Linked DNA regions of Homo sapiens: region 1 is linked to region 2. The links come from fine-mapping of genetic effects on gene expression. A gene starts in region 2. The other region holds a variant in brackets. All regions are shown on one strand. Distances are from middle to middle.

What was found. PIP is the estimated chance that this variant, and not a neighbour inherited with it, causes the effect. A credible set is the group of variants that fine-mapping cannot tell apart.
Region 1: its variant is the best candidate, but not a certain one, in a credible set for the expression of HIP1 in whole blood (INTERVAL, PIP 0.82).

What each region holds. Positions count from the first base shown.
Region 1 is chr7:75,787,635-75,795,958 of GRCh38, reverse strand. It overlaps a transcript of CCL26 not described here. Among named protein-coding and RNA genes, the nearest start is that of CCL26, 20 kb to the right of the region's middle. RefSeq lists enhancers at 6,697-7,555, 7,556-8,324. The variant A/C (reference allele first, on the strand shown) is at 3,119.
Region 2 is chr7:75,734,523-75,742,846 of GRCh38, reverse strand. It overlaps HIP1 (huntingtin interacting protein 1), which reads left to right and starts at 3,906. Exons shown (of 31, transcript NM_005338.7): 1 at 3,906-4,046. The coding sequence starts at 3,927. RefSeq lists a silencer at 3,129-4,118.

The DNA.
Region 1 (8,324 bases), 53 kb before region 2:
CGGGACAAAGCCTGGCGGAAGCCACCCTGAAGGTTCATTCTCAGCGTTAAGGGTTGGGGGGTAGGACTCTGAGACTGTCAGAGGCAGGACAAGGCACAGGCATGACACAGACCCAGCTCTGAGCCTTGGTTCTGCCATCCATGAGTTTTGTGGCCTTGAACAAACCACAGTTTTCTAGGCTGTAAAAGGGGATAAGAAAACCTCCCTAGGCCGGGTGTCATGGCTCATGCCTGTAATCCCAGCACTTTTGGGGGCCGAGGCAGGTGGATCACTTGAGGTCAGGAGTTCGAGACCAGCCTGGGCAATATGGTGAAACCCTGTCTCTACTAAAAGTACAAAACTTAGCCAGGCGTGGTAGTGCATGCCTATAGTCCCAGCTACTTGGGAGGCTGAGGCAGGAGAATCGCTTGAACCGAGGAGCTGGAGGCTGCAGTGAGCCGAGATTGCACCACTGCACTCCAGCCTGGGTGACAGAGGGAGACCCTGTTTCAAAAAAAAAAAAAAGAAAGAGAAAAAAAGAAAGAAGAAGGCAAGAGAGCAAGAAAGAAAGATAGAAAGAAGAAAGCAAGAGATCAAGAAAGAAAGAAAGAAGAAAGCAAGAGATCAAGAAACAAAGATAGAAAAAGAAAGAGAGAAAGAAAGAAAGAAGGAAGGAAGGAAGGAAAGAGAGAGAAAGAAAGAAGGAAAGAAAGAAAGAAAGAGAAATAAAGAAACCACTCTCCTAGAACCGCTTTCAGGGTAAATGGATTAACTGGTAACAAACAAAAAAGTTTGTTTTTCTTCCAACTCCAGGAGATACGGTTTTTTAGTTGTTTGTTTGTTTGAGACAGGGTCTCACTCCGTCACCCAGGCTGGAGTGCAGTGGTGTGATCGTGTCTCACTGCAACTTCAACCTCCTGGCCTCAAGCGATCCTCTCACCTCAGGCTCCCCAAGTAGCTGGGACTACAGACATGTGCCACCATGCCCAGCTGATTTTTAAGATTTTGTAGAGACAGGGTTCCACTATATTGCCCAGGCTAGTGTTGAACTCCTGGGCTCAAGTAATCCTCCTGCCTCAGCCTCCCAAAGTGCTGGGATTACAGGTGTGAGCCACGGCGCCCGGCCGAAACATGTTTTTATTCTCCTGATTCGGCTTGGTCTCTGTTGCACACAAGCCAGGATGCTGCTTCCTCCAGGAAGAGCTTCCCAGGGCTGGGGAACCCCTCCTAACACACTGTGCCTCCTCTGGCTCCCCTCACTAGCTCCCCATGTGTAGGTCTCACTGGGACAGCAGACAAGGGAGTTTCTTTACATCCACTCCTTACTTCTCTCTTTTTTTTTTTCCTTTTTTCTTCTTCTTTTTTTTTTGTTTGAGATAGAGTCTTGCTCTGTTGCCCACGCTGGAGTGCAGTGGTGCGATCTCGGCTCACTGCAACCTCCGCCTCTCAGGTTCAAGCAATTCTCCTGCCTCAGCCTCCCAAGTAGGTGGGATTACAGGCACGTGCCACCACACCTGGCTAATTTTTGTATTTTTAGTACAGACAAGTTTCACCATGTTGGCCAGCCTGGTCTCAAACTCCTGACCTCAAGGGATCCACCCACCTCAGCCTCCCAAAGTGCTGGGATTACAGGTGTGAGCCACTGCACGCGGTCTCTCTTTCTCTTTCTCTCCCTTCCTTCCTTCCTTCCTTCCTTTCTCTTTCTCTCTTATTTCTCTCTCTCTCTCTTTTTCTTTCTTTCTTTTTTTTATTGACAGAGTCTCACTATGTCGCCCAGGCTGGAGTGCAGTGGCACAATCTTGGCTCACTGCATTCTCTGCCTGCTGGGTTCAAGAGATTCTCCTGCCTCAGCCTCCCGAGTAGCTGGGATTACAGGTGGGCACCACCACGCCCAGTTAATTTTTTTATTTTTAGTAGAGACAGGGTTTCACCATATTACCCAGGCTGGGCTCGACTCCTGACTTCAAGTGATCTGCCCACCTAGGCCCTCCAAAATGCTGGGATTACAGGTGTTACCCACCTCACCTGGCCCGCTTTCTTTTCTTTCTTTCTTTTTCTTTATTTCTTTCTGTCTTTCTTTTCTTTTCTTTTCTTTTCTTTCTTTCTTTCTTTCTCTCTCTCTCCCTCCCTCCCTTCCTCCCTTCCTTCCTTTCTTCTTCCTTTCTTCCTTCCCCTTCCTTCCTCCCCTTCCCCTTCCCCTCCCTCTCTCCCTCTCTCTCTCTCTCTCTCTTTCTTTCTCTCTTTGTTCTTTCTCCACTTATGCTCAAATTCTATACTCACCTTTCTTAAGGACAGGGATGGTGTCCTGTCCACCACGGTGTCTCCAGAGCCTTGGACATTGCTGGGGCTGTAAGAATTCAGCAAACATTTGGCTGGATGCAGTGACTTATGCCTGTAATCCCAGCACTGTGGGAGGCTGAGGTGGCCAGCTCACTTGAGGTCAGCAGTTTGACACCAGTCTGGTCAACATGGTGAAACCATATCTCTACTAAAAATACAAAAATTAGCTGGATGTGGTGGTGCGCACCTATAGTCCCAGCTACTCGGGAGGCTGAGGCAGGAGAATTGCTTGAACCCAGGAGGTGGAGGTTGCAGTGAGCCGACCTGCACTCCAACCTGACAGAGCGAGACTCCATCTCAAAAAAAAGAAAAAAAGAACGAGCAAACATTTGCCACATAAATACATTCCAGAACCCTGTGCTGAAGGGTTATGGAGACAAAAGGAGGCTTCATGCTGGGCCTCCACATCCCTCTGTCCCTCTCTAGTATTGTGTCCTTACAGCAGCCAGACTCATCTTTATCAATGAGTCCTCTCATCGTGTGACTCCCCTGCTTAAAACTCCTTACTGTTGGCCGGGCCCGGTGGCCCATGCCTGTAATTCCAGCACTTTGGGAGGCCAAGGCAGGCAGATCACTTGAAGTCAGGAGTTCCAGACCAGCCTGGCCAACATGGTGAAACCCCATCTCTACTAAAAATACAAAAATTAGCCGGGCATGGTGGTGGGCACCTATAGTCCCAGCTACTTGGGAGGCTGAGACAGGAGAATTGCTTAAAGCCGGGAGGCAGAGGTTGCAGTGATCCAAGATCGCACCATTGCACTCTAGCCTGGGTGACAGAGCAAGACTCCATCTAAAAAAA[A/C]AAAAAACAAAAAACAAAACAAAACCTCTTTACTCTCTCCCTGTTACACTTATTTATTTATTTATTTATTTATTTATTTATTTATTTATTTATTTATTTGAGATAGGGGTCTTGCTCTGTTGCTCAGGCTGGAGTGCAGTGGTGTGACCACAGCTCACTGCAGCCTTGAACTCCTGGGCTCCAGCAATCCTCCTGCCTCGGCCTCCCAAGTAGCTGGCACTACAGGCATGTGCCACCACGCCCGGCTAATTTTTGTATTTTATGTAGAGATAGGGTCTCACTACATTGCCCAGACTGATTTCAAACTCCTGGGCTCAAGGGAGCCTCCCGCTTGAGCCTCTTGAGTAGCTGGGACTACAGGCGTGCGCCACTATGTCTGGCTAATTTTTATTTTTTATAGAGATGGGATCTCACTATGTTGACCAGGCTGGTCTTGAACTTCTGGGCTGAAGCAATCCTCCCACCTGGGAGTGCTGGGATTACAGGCATGAGTCACCCATGCCTGGTGGCTTCTTTTCTTATAAGGACACCTGTCATATTGGATCAGAGTCCCATCCTTATGACCTCATTAAAACTTACAGCCAGGCATGGCGGCTCACGCCTGTAATCCCAGCACTTTGGGAGGCCGAAGTGGGTGGATCACCTGAGGTCAGGAGTTTGAGACCAGCCTGGCCAACGCGGTGAAACCCCATCTCTGCTAAAAATACAGAAAGTATCTGGGTGTGGTGGCGCATGCCTGTAGTCCCAGCTACTCGGGAGACTGAGGTAAGAGGATTGCTTGAGCCAGAGGAGGCAGAGGCTGCAGTGAGCTGAAATCGTGGGTAACATGCCTGGGTAACACAGCAAGACTCTGTCTCTAAATAAATAAATAAAAATAAAAACAAAGTAGCCAGGTGTGGTGGTGCATGCCTGTGGTCCCAGCTGCTTGGGAGGGTGAGGTGGGAGAATCACTTGAGCTTGGGGAGGTGGAGGCTGCCGTGAGCTGTGATCACACCTCTGCACTCCAGCGTCGGTGACAGAGTGAGACCCTGTCTCAAAACAAAAAAAGGATGGAAAAAAAACCTTACTTACTTGTTGAACTTCTGGGCTGAAGCAATCCTCCCGCCTGGGAGTGCTGGGATTACAGGCATGAGTCACCCAGGCCTGGCTTCTTTTCTTATAAGGACATCTGTCATGTTGGATCAGAGTCCCATCCTTATGACCTCATTAAAACTTACAGCCTGGCACAGCAGCTCACGCCTGTAATCCCAGCACTTTGAGAGGCCGAGAAGTGGGAAGCCCAGATGGCAGCCTAGACCCTGGGAACCACAGCAGATGGGGGCTCCTGGGAGATCCACACAGAGGAATCTGGAGCCCAGGAAGCAACCTGGAGGGTACAGGGAAGGGGCTTCAGCCACAGGGAAGGGCCTGGAGGGAAGAGAGCAGGAGCCAGGGCCGCCAGCTATGGGCTGACATCAAGGGCATACTCAAGGTCCTGACTGAGGGGGCCTCGGACACAAGTACCAAGAGGGAGTTTCAGCCAGGCGTGGTGGCTCACACCTGTAATCCCAGCCCTTTGGGAGCTGAGGCGGGTGGATCACGAGGCCAGGAGTTTGAGACCAGCCTGGCCAACATGACAAAACCTTGTCTCTACTAAAAATACAAAAATTAGCCAGGTGTGGTGGCGGGTGCCTGTAATCCCAGCTACTCGGGAGGCTGAGGCAGGAGAATTGCTTGAACCCGGGAGGCAGAAGTTGCAGTGAGCCGAGATCGTGCCATTGCACTCCAGCCTGCGTGACAAGAGCAAGACTCTGTCTCAAAAAGAAAAAAAGAAAAAAAAAAAAAAAAGGAGGAGTTTCAGCAGAAGCCATTTATAGACAGACATGCCTCTTGGGTGAAGGGACTCAAATTTTTTTTTTTTTGAAATGGAGTCTCTATCGCCCAGGCCGGAGTGCAGTGGCGTAATCTTGGCTCACTGCAAACTCCACCTTCCAAACTCAAGCTATTCTCCTGCCTCAGCCTCCCGAGTAGCTGAGACTACAGGCACTCACTATCACACCTGGCTAATTTTTGTATTTTTAATAGAGACGGGATTTCACCACATTGGCCAGGTTGGTCTTGAACTCCTGACCTCCAGTGATCTGCCTGCCTCGGCCTCCCACAGTGCTGGGATTACTGGTGTGAGCCACCATGTCCAGCCTCAAATGTTTTATAAACAGGGTATAATCACTTACCCATACAGGAGGAAAGCTGATAAATAAAACTATATTAAAATCCATTAGAAGACATCCATAAGAGGCCAGGCACAGCAGCTCCTGCCTGTAATCCTAGCACTTTGGGAGGCTGAGGTGGGAGGATCACTTAAGTCCAGGAGATTGAGGCCAGGAATTCAAGACCAGCCTGGGCAACACAGCAAGACCCCATCTCTACAATTTTTTTTTTAAGTTAGCAGAACATGGTGGTGCATGCCTGTAGTTCCAGCTACTCAGAAGGCTGAGGTGGGAGGACTGCTTGAGCCCAGGATCTTGAGGTTGCAGGGAGCTATGATTGCACCACTGCAAAGAAAAGAAAAAGAAAAGAAAGAGAGAGAAAGAGGTATGGAGGGAGGGAGGGAGGGAGGATGGAAGGAAGGAAGGAAGGAAGAAAGAAAGAAAGAAAGAAAGAAAGAAAGAAAGAAAGAAAGGAAGGAAGGAAGGAAGGAAGGGAGAGAGACAGAAAGAGAGAGAGAGAAAGAAAGAAAGAAAAAGAAAGAGAAAAGGAGGGAGAGAGCTGGGGAAGAAGGAAGAAAAGAAGGGAAAGAAAGAAAGAGAGGTAGGGAGGAATGGAGGGAAGGAAGGAAGGAAGGGAGGGAGGGAGGGAGGGAGAACCGTAAGACGTAGAAAGGCAATCTGTGGGATGGGAGATTATTTCTGCAATACATCTGTACTGGGTTGAATAATATACCCCAAGAATTCATTGTCCACCCAGAACCTCAGAAATGTGAGTTATTTGGGAATGGCTGTTTGTAAATGTCCTTACGTAAGCCAAGAGGAGGTCTTGACTTGGGGTCCCAGGGGTACCGCAGATCCCAGGGACTGGAGCAGCACTAGCAAGCTCTGGAGGATGAGCCAGGAGTCTGGAATTGAGGCTGAGCCAAAGACCCCAGGTAAGGGTCAGGGACTTTGTTTCTGGGAACCTGCCAGGTTGGGGTTTGGAAGGAAGTAATGGGCCTTGTTTGGTGGTGGGGAGGGGGGCAAAGTGTGGGGGTTTCTCATTGCAGAAGAGAATTTTCAGAGGATAGACTCCATTGCCAAAGGCAGGGAAAGGCAGAAGTATGGAAAACAGCTGGGGTCTGACATGCTGTAGGCAGCCAGCACTTTCTCTTGAAATGAGAAACATTCTGGCAAAAAAAAAAAAAAAAGAGAAAAAGAGAAATGGATGTTCCCAGAAGAGTGGCAAAGAGAGAGAGAGAGAGAAATATTCTCATCTCAAGGAAGGAGGGAGAGAACGTAGGGAGGCCATGGCTCCCATATTACATTTCCTTAACTGCAGAATTATTTGTTTTGTTTATTCGCCATATCATTTCATTCCTCTTTACTAATTTATTGAAATATAATATACATATAGAAAAGTACGCAGGCCAGGCACGGTGGCTGGCACCTATAATCCCAGCACTTTGGGAGGCTGAGGCAGGAGGATCACTTGAGGCCAGGAGTTTGAGACCAGCCTGGGCAACACAGAGAGACCCCCCCGCCCGCCACATCTCTACAAAAAAAAAAAAAAAAATCAAAAAATGAACTGGGCACGGTGGTGCGCACCTGTAGTCCTGGCTACTCGGGTGGCTAAGGAGGGAGAATCCCTTGAGCCTTGGAAAGTTGAGGCTGCAGTGAGCTATGACAGCATCACTGCACTCCAGCCTGGGTGACAGAGTGAGATCCTATCTTAAAAAACAAGAAAAAGAGAAAAGAAAGGTATGCAAACTCTAAGAGTACAACTCAAAGAATTTCCACAAGGGTTAAAAGGTGAACCAGCACCCAGATAAAGGAACAGAGCATACCAGCCCCCAGAACGCCCCCTTGAAACCGCTTTAAGTCAGTTGCCCCAAAGGGTGACCACTCTTCTGACTCCCATCTTTTTTTTTCTTCTTTTTTTTTTTTTGGACGGAGTCTTGCTCTGTCGCCCAGACTAGAGTGCAGTGGTGTGATCTTGGCTCACTGCAATCTCCACCTCCCGAGTTCAAGGGATTCTCCTGAGTAGCTGGGATTACAGACGCACACCACCACACCTGGCTAATGTTAGTACTTTTAGTAGAGATGGGTTTCACTCGCGTCCATGTGAAGAGACCACCAAACAGGCTTTGTGTGAGCAATAAAGCTTTTTAGTCACCTGGGTGCAGGCGGGCTGAGTCCAAAAAGAGAGTCAGCCAAGGGAGATAGGGGTGGGGCCGTTTTATAGGATTTGGGTAGGTAATGGAAAATTACAGTCAAAAGGGGTTGTTCTCTGGCGGGCAGGGGTGAGGGACACAAGGTGCTCAGTGGGGGAGCTTTTGAGCCAGGATGAGCCAGGAGAAGGAATTTCACAAGGTAATGTCATCAATTAAGGCAAGAACAGGCCATTTTCACTTCTTTTGTGATTCTTCAGTTACTTCAGGCCATCTGGATGTATACGTGCAGGTCACTGGGGGATACGACGGCTTAGCTTGGGCTCAGAGGCCTGACATTCCTGTCTTCTTATATTAATAAGAAAAATAAAACGAAATAGTGGTAAAGTATTGGGGCGGCGAAAATTTTTGGGGGTGGTATGGAGAGATAATGGGCGATATTTCTCAGGGCTGCTTCGAGAAGGATTAGGGGCGGCATGGGAACCTAGAGTGGGAGAGATTAAGTTGAAGGAAGATTTTTGTGGTAAGGGGCGATATTGTGGGGTTGTTAAAAAGAGCATTTGTCATATAAAACGATTGGTGAAGGCCCGGATGCCGTTCTGTATGAATTGAGAAACTAAACGAAAGACACAAGTTCCGAATAAGAGAAGGAGAAAAACAGGTATTAAAGGACTAAGAATTGGGAGGACCCAGGACATCCAATTAGAGAGTGTCCAAGGGGGTTTAGTGTAATTACTTGTTTGGTTGGTGAGTTTTTGGGCTCTGTTTTTGACAGAGTCCTTTTATTTTTTTTTTTAAGTTGAGAGGCTGAGCTTGGGGGGTGTGTCTTTTTTTTTTTTTTTTTTTTTTTGCTTTTGGAGACGGAGT
Region 2 (8,324 bases):
GAATGAGACCCTGTCGTGAAAAAACAAAAAAAGAGAGAGAGAGAGATTGGGGTATTCATCCCCCAGCTGCCTCCCTGCCACGCCACTTTCCACAGTGACTGTGGGTTTTCTACCTAAGGTCACAGCTCTGGGAAAATGCCTACTTTCCCATGACCAGAGCCCCCACCAGGTTACAGCACAGCTCCCTCCCCTTTTCTCTTTAGGTCTAGAGATGGTAACAGCTTCCTGGTGTTCCAGTAATATCTGGTGCTTTACCTGTCCCGGTTGATTCCCTTAACTCAGGTCACACCTTTGTACATAGTTCCTTCTCTTTCTTTTTCCTGAGAGAGGGTCTCGGTCTCTCAGGCTGGCGTGCAGGGGTGCAATCATAGCTCACTGCAGCCTCGACCTCCTGGGCTCAAGGGATCCTCCCGTCTCAGTCTCCTGAGGAGCTGGGATTACAGGTGTGCACCATCACACTTGGCTCACTGCAACCTCCACCTCCAGGGTTCAAGCGATTCTCGTGCCTCAGCCTCCCAAATAGCTGGGATTACAGGCGCGTGCCATCACACCCTGCTAATTTTTGTATTTTTAGTAAAGACGGGGTTTTGCCACGTTGCCCAGGCTGGTCTCGAACTCCTGGCCTCAAGTGAGCTGCCTGCCTTGGCCTCACAAAGTGCTGGGATTACAGGCATGAGCCACTGTGGCACGGCCACAAAAAATTTTTTAAAAATTAGCCAGACATGGATGGGCATGGTGGCTCATGCCTGTAATCCCAGCACTTTGGGAGGCTGAGGCGGGCAGATCACTTGAGGTCAGGAGTTCGAGACCAGCCTGGCCAACATGGTGGAACTCTGTCTGTACTAACAATACAAAAATTGGCCGGGCATGGTGGCATACACCTGTAATCCCAGCTACTTGGGAGGCTGAGGCAGGAGAATAACTTGAACCTGGGAGGCAGAGCCTGCAGTGAGCTGAGATTGCGACACTGCACTCCAGCCTGGGCAACAGAGCGAGAGTCTGTCTCTTAAAAAAAAAAAAGGAAGAAACTATGTACAAAGGTGTGACCTGAGTTAGGGGAATCAACCAGGACGGGTAAATTGGCAAAGCACCAGGATTTGCTGGAACAGCAGGAAGTCACTACACCCTATCTCTAAATAAATAAATGTTTTTTAAAAATTGAGATTTTTGTTTGTTTGTTTTTTGTTTTTTGCTTTTTGGAGATAGAGTTTCACTCTGTCATGCAGGCTGGAGTTCACTGGTGCGATCTCAGCTCACTGCAGCCTTCGCCTCCCAGGCTCAAGTGATTCTCCAGCCTCAGCTTCTCGAGTAGCTGGGATTACAGGCACATGCCACCACACCTGGCTACTTTTTTGTATTTTTTAGTAGAGACAGAATTTCACCATGTTGGCCAGGCTGATTTTGAACTCCTGGCCTCAAGTGATCTGCCCGCCTCGACCTCCCAAAGTGCTGGGATTACAGGTGTGAGCCACGGTGCCCGGCCAAGGTAATTTCCTCTTCCTCTGTCAGCGCCCCTACCGTGCTCCCACGCTCAGTTGTCATCTCCCTCTCCCTAGACATGAAAAATCAGGTGACATCTAATCTCTCCCAAAGCAACACAAGGGAGGGGGCACTCCCAAAGCCTCCCACAGAAACACAATTTAAGTAAAGGTGAAACCAGTCCAGTCCTTCCTATGCAAATGTAGCCTGAATGGCACCGCCATTGCCCATCCCCCAATCCCTGTGTCCAAGCCTTATTTGCGTAACCTCCCACGGGACAGAACTTCCTCCTCTCCCTTCTCTTCTAGGCCCTCATCATCTCTCATCTACGCTAGAGTCTCCCCACTGATTTCCTCCCTTCCATCAGGCCCCCATAATCCATCCCCACAATACAAGCTCCTCAGTGCACACATCTGAGCAAAAGTCTTCAGTGGCTCCTTAGTAACCGCAAATGCCCACCCCTCTTTCACTTCTCTATTGAATGTGTGAATTTTTACCAAACGCTCTTATTAAAAAAAATAAAAACAAAAACAAAAAAAAAACAGGCAGGGCAGGGTGGCTCACACCTGTAATCCCAGTGCTTTGGGAGGCTGAGGTGGTAGGATCATTTGAGCCCAGGAGATCATGACCAGCCTGGGCAATCCAGCAACATACCCCTCACTACAAAGAAATATGTATATATTTTTTTGAGACGGGGTCTCGCTCTGTCTCCCAGGCTGGAGTGCAGTGGCGCGATCTCTGCTCACTGCAACCTCTGCCTCCCTGGCTCAAGTAATCCTCCCGCCTTGTGAGTAGCTGGGACTACAGGCTTGCACCACCACGCCCAGCTAATTTTAAAATTTTTTGTACAGATGGAGTCTTGCTATGTTGCCCAGGCTGGTTTCAAAGTTCAGAGCTCAAACGATCCGCCTGCCTCAGCCTCCCAAAGCGCTGAGATTACAGGTGTAAGCCACCGCACCTGGCCAAATTTACAACACACACACACACACACACACACACACGAATCACCAAATTGTTAGGCCTAAAGGTGCCATTCATTACTCCGAGTTTCAAATAACTTTTAAAAAATACATCTATGCCGGGTGCTGTAGCTCATGTCTGTAATCACAGTACTTTGGGAGGCCAAGGTGGGAGGCTTGCTTGAGGCCACGAGTTCGAGACCAGTCTGGGCAACATAGAAAGACTCCATCTCTGCAAAAAAGATAGCCAGGCTTGGTGGCGTGCATCTGTAGTCCCAGCTACTCGAGAGGCCGAGGCAGGAAAATCGCTAGGACCCAGGAGCTCAAGGTCCCAGTGTGTTACGATCTGCACTCCAGCCTGGGCGACAGAGGGAGACTGACTCCAAATGAAACCAAAAAAAAAAAAAAAAACAAACAAAAACAAAAACAAAAACACACCTAAATTGGAGTTTAACGGAAAACTTTTAACTTTCTCCAGCACTCCTGCTAAGCATCACACTTCTCTCTGCTTGCTGGTACCCTGGCTGACGTCTGAGCAGGATGGGACGCGCGGCTCAGAGCCTAAGATAAACCGAAAGTGTCTACAGGGCTTTCTACCAACAAATAAGCTCTGACGGGTTCCTTTGATGAGGTTTGGGAGGCAGGTCCCGGGAGGTGCCCGCGGACTCAGCCCCGAACTCCGGGACCTGGGCTCTGCGATCCTTGCAGAGGGCATGGGCAGGGGCAGAATGGAGAAGTGCAGGACGGGGAAGCCTGGGAGCTGGGTGGGGGCGGCCACCCATTGAGCCGGATCCGGCCAGGCGCCCACGCTGCGCCCCGCCCGCGGGGCTGCGCTTTCCCGGGCTGCGGCCGCAGGGCTGGTCAGTCCGGCGCTCCCGGGTCCCAGGCCCGGAAGGAGCTAACGGGCTATTCGCAGGCGGGCTGGGATTCCCCCGGGGGAGGCCCCACTGCCCGGCCCGCGTCATCCCCGCCCATCTCCACGGGCCGTCGCGGGATAGCCCCCTGCAGGAGCGGGCAGGGTAGTGGGCGGCGCTTGGCGGAGGGCAGCACGCTCGGGGCGCGCGGGGACTGCGGCCGAGGGGAGGAGAGGGCGGTGCGCGGGCGGGGGCGGGGCGAGCGAGGGCATATCAGGGCAGCCCGCCCAGGCCACGCCCCATCCAGGCCTCGCCCCGTCCGCACCCCGCCCCGGCCCTGCCTAGAACGGCGGGACCACGGTGACTGACAGGACTCCAGACCAGTCACCACGCGCCTCGAGGCCCCGAGAGGCTAGTCGGGGCCGAGCCAGCGGAGGGGCTCCTGAAGGGGCGGGGGCGGGCGGGGAAGCCGTTCGGCGAGGGGCGGGGTCTCTGGAAGACTGGCAGAACTCACAGCCAATGGCAGGCGGGAGCCGTCCCGTTAGCGCCGGATCCCCGCGGGTAGGGCGGGGCGGGCGGCGCCGTGGGGATCCCGGGGCAGCCGAGGGCCCCTGACTCGGCTCCTCGCGGCGACATGGATCGGATGGCCAGCTCCATGAAGCAGGTGCCCAACCCACTGCCCAAGGTGCTGAGCCGGCGCGGGGTCGGCGCTGGGCTGGAGGCGGCGGAGCGCGAGAGCTTCGAGCGGACTCAGGTGAGGACGGGGGACCCCGGGGCATCCCTGGGGCACCCTGAGGGACGCGGTGTCCGGGAGGGGCTTTGAAGGGAGTAGGAGTCTTGCAGGCCCCAGTTGAAGACGGGGCGAGGGTGTAGTGAGCGGGGGCATTGACGTGCAGATCTGGGCGATCCCAGGAAGGTCGGGGACCCCAGGGTACCCCAGCTGGCCTGGGGAGAAGGGCAGAGGCGGGCTCGGAGGAGATGGCAGGATGCGTGGCCAAGAGGAGCCTGATCGGCTGGGTACCGGGCAGGAGTCCCAAGATGAGGTGAGAGGGGAAGGAACTGAAAAGGGGCGGAATGGAAGGGTTGCCCCTAAACAAGGGAAGCGCACGGGAGCCACTTGGAGGCTCAAGTGTGGGGGCGGAGAGTGGGGGCGCCGGGCTGGGAATGTGAAGGGTGAGGGGACCTCTCTTCCCCTCCGATCACTTCTTGGTTGCATTGACATCCCTTCCCACCCCCCACCCCTTAGCATCCCCCTTTCTCGATGCCTCTTGCTTGGCTCTGGCCAGCCCCAGCTGTCAGCTCTGAGGCCGGGCGGAAGGGGTCGGAGCAGGGAAAAGGAATGTAGGAAATGCAAAGTGTGGCCACTTTGTGGGAAAATTACTTTGGGGGCTAAAGTGGAGACCATGGTGCCCCTGAGCCCTGACTTGGGGTCTTGGTTTTATCCCCCAAGATGTGCCTGACAGCTAATAGGCAGACTGCCCTATTTGTCCTGCCTGGCCAGGGCTTGGGGCCAAAATTCCTCAGTGTCATCAACAAAAAGCCACAATCCATTTTTTTCTCCGAGTTTTTAATGCCTGGTGTATTGATTGGGCTGAATTAAGCTGACATGTTGATGGTGTTCATCAATTCATTTGTATGTAAAATCCATTTCAAAGAGTACAACGCTTCTTTTAATCCCAGTGCCAATGCTGGAGGGGCAGATTTCTTCTACACTCTTGTGCTCAGAGTGGAACCTTTGAAGATCCATTTGGGTCCCCCTCTCCAGAGGCTGGTCCCCTGATGTGTTATGCGAGGAATACTTCCCCCAAACACAGTTGGAGGGAAAGGGCTTTGGGATTTTAGTTAGAAAAGACAGTGAGAATCTGACTGAAGGTTCTGTATATGGAATCTTTCAAAGAATAGAGCTTTTGGCCGGGCGCGGTACCTCACACCTGTAATCCCAGCACTTTGGGAGGCCGAGGCGGGTGGATCACCTGACGTCAGGAGTTTGAGACCAGCCTGGCCAACATGGTGAAACCCTGTCTCTACTAAAAATACAAAAAATTAGCTGGGCGTGGTTGCAGACGCTTGTAATCCCAGCTACTTGGGAGGCTGAGGCCAGCAGAATTGCTTGAATCTGGGAGGTGAAGGTTGCAGTGAGCCGAGATGGCGCCACTGCACTCCAGCCTGGGCAACAAGAGCGAAACTCCGTCTCAAAATAATAATAATAAAAAAGAATAAAGCTTTTCACCCCCAGAGGACTTCATCCCCTCTTCTTATTCTGAAAACCTTTGGCCCCCCACCTGGGCAACATAGTGCGACCCTGTCTCTACAAAAAATAAAAAAATTAGGCTGGGTGCATTAGCTCACACCTGTAATCCCCGTACTTTGGGAGGCCAAGGTGGGAGGATCACTTGATCCCAGGAGTTCGATACCTGCCTAGACAACACACTGAGATCCCGCCTCTATTTTGAAAAAATTTTAAAATTATCCTCGTGTGGTGGCATACACCTATAGTCCCAGCTGTTTGAGAGGCTGAGGCATGAGGGTCACTTGAGCCAGGAGGCTGAGGCTGCAGTGGGCTATGATCGTGCCACTGCACTCCAGCCTGGGTGACAGAGTGAGACTCTATCTCTACAAAAAAGTGAAAAAAAGAAAGAAAACCGCGCGCAGGTGTGTCTGGATAGTGTGAAGCAGTGGGACCCTGTCTCTACAAAAAAAAAAAAGAAAAAGAAAAAAAGAAAGTGCCTCCATGCAGGTGTGTCTGGATGGTGTGAAGCAGGGAGTCTTCTCTACCTGGTTATCCTACCCCAGGAGGGAAGTGGGAAATGGTCATTTCACTTCTGCCTCCCAGGATCCAGCTAGGTTTGAGGCTTGTTCTCTGGTTTCATGGACCCGACCCCTGAAAAGAAGGAAGTTTTCCATTGGTCTTGGATGTTAGTGCCTCTGCTAGCTGCCTAGTTACATGAGGCTTCTTGCTCCATGAAACAGTGTGTATATTCCTTTTATTTTTATATTTTCATAGAGATGGGGGTCTCACTGTGTTGCCCGGACTGGTCTCAAACTCCTGGCGTCAAGTGATTCTTCTGCTTCTGCCTCCCAAAGTGCTGGGACTACAGGCATGAGCCATGGCACCCAGCCCTATTTTTTTTTTTAATAAATGAAATAAGAAAATAAATAGATATTATTTTTTAACAACCCGTTCCTTCTAGAGTCTCAAATAAGTAAAAACTAGAGCAATAGAGAAATATGCGTAAGACTTTGACCCATAATAGTGATAGAAATTAGGTTTGTGAAAGTTTCCACCCGTGAGTGGTATGTTTCCCTGCTATCCAGGGACGGCCCAACAGGAGAGTCTAGGTCAGTGTTTTCTGGTGTTTTACATTCTGTGGGACATTTGTGATTGGCCAGATTTGACCTGGGTGGGGTGGGTGGGGGTGAAGTAGAGTGGAGCAGAAAAAGAGAATTTTTCTGATGTTGAAACTCTTATTTTTAACTTTTTTTTTTTTTAAGACGGAGGTCTCACTGTGTTTTCCCAGGCTGGTCTTGAACTAGCCTCAAGCGATCTTCCCACCTCAGCCTCCCAAAGTGCTGGGATTTCAGGTGTGAGCCACTGCACCCAGCCTCTGGTGTTGAAACTCTTTAGGGGTGTAGGAGAGTAAAGAAAAAGAACCAGCCTGGACAACATAGTAAGACCCCATCTCTACAAAAAATAAAATTAGCTGGTTGTGGTATCACGTGCCTGTTGTCCCAGTAACTTTGGAGGTTGAGGTGGGAGGATTGCTTGAGCCCGGGAGGCAGAGGTTGCAGTGAGCAAAGATTGTGCCACTGCATTCCGGCCTGGGCAACAGAGTGAGACCCCATCTCAAATAAAAAAAAAAGAAAAAGAAAAAGAAAAGAAAAGAAAAGAGAACAGCCCTAAACCCAACGTTAGTCAATCTGCAAAAAAATTATTTTGTTTAATGACTACCTATCAAATGTATTATGAGGTTGCAGAGCTTGGTAAGCAAAGGGAAAAAAGGGGAAGAATGTATTATGAGATATAAAAAATGAATTAGAAAAAATTTAATGAGTTAGGAGACCATGAGAATCAGCCAAGGTATAATAATAACTAACTAATTATTGTGTTTGGCAGTATTCTAAGGACATCATTGTATTACCTTTTTAAATCTTGACAAGAACGGATGAGGTGGGTATCAGCCACATTTTACTCTCAGGACGATTGAGGCACAGAGAGGTTAAGTAACTCACCAGAAGTCACACAGCTGGAAACGGTCTCAACCTTTACCCACTGCCTCAGGCAGCCTCTGAGTACTGAGCAGATGCTGGCATTGGAGTTAGAAGGCATTTGAGGCTTACAGCTGGGCATGTACATGGGCCTTGTGGTCTCTGGGAAGTTGTCTAACCTTTCTAAGCCTCGGTTTCCTTATTGTCAAATAAACATAATACTTACCTGGCTGATTTATTGTGGGGATTCAATTAAGCCCAATATGCCTGAAGGCATTTTGTAAACTGTGGAGCACTAGTTCAGTGATTATTGTTATAATCTGACTGGGGAGACGAACCCGAGACAGCAGAAGTGTGAGCAATCAAGCAGGCTGTGATTAACTCTTCCTTAGAGGGATAGATGTGGTACTAGGTAATGGGATAATTACCAAGAGCACGTGGATAAAGCACAGGCTTTGGGGTTGGGAGCCCTCCCCGAGGACTGAAGCACATCTTGTAGCATGAGTTAGTGCTTGCTGGGTGGAGGAGGGGATGGGGCATTCCAGTGACAGAAGAACATAAATAAAGAGACATCTAGACTAGGCAGATAAACTTCCCAGCGGGTGCAGTGGAGACTCATTGGCTGGGGTAGACAGAGAGGCAAAATTGGCCACTCCCTCCTCTGAACTATAGCAGGGCTGGTGACCTCTCCTAGTTCCTGTGACCTTGTGCTGGCATCATTTCTCTCTGTGGCCCCCATTGAACACTGAGCTTATTGAGGGCAGGTCTGTGTCTTGCTCTTGCCTGCATCCTGAAGCTCATGGTTAGTGGTGAATGGGGTCAGCAA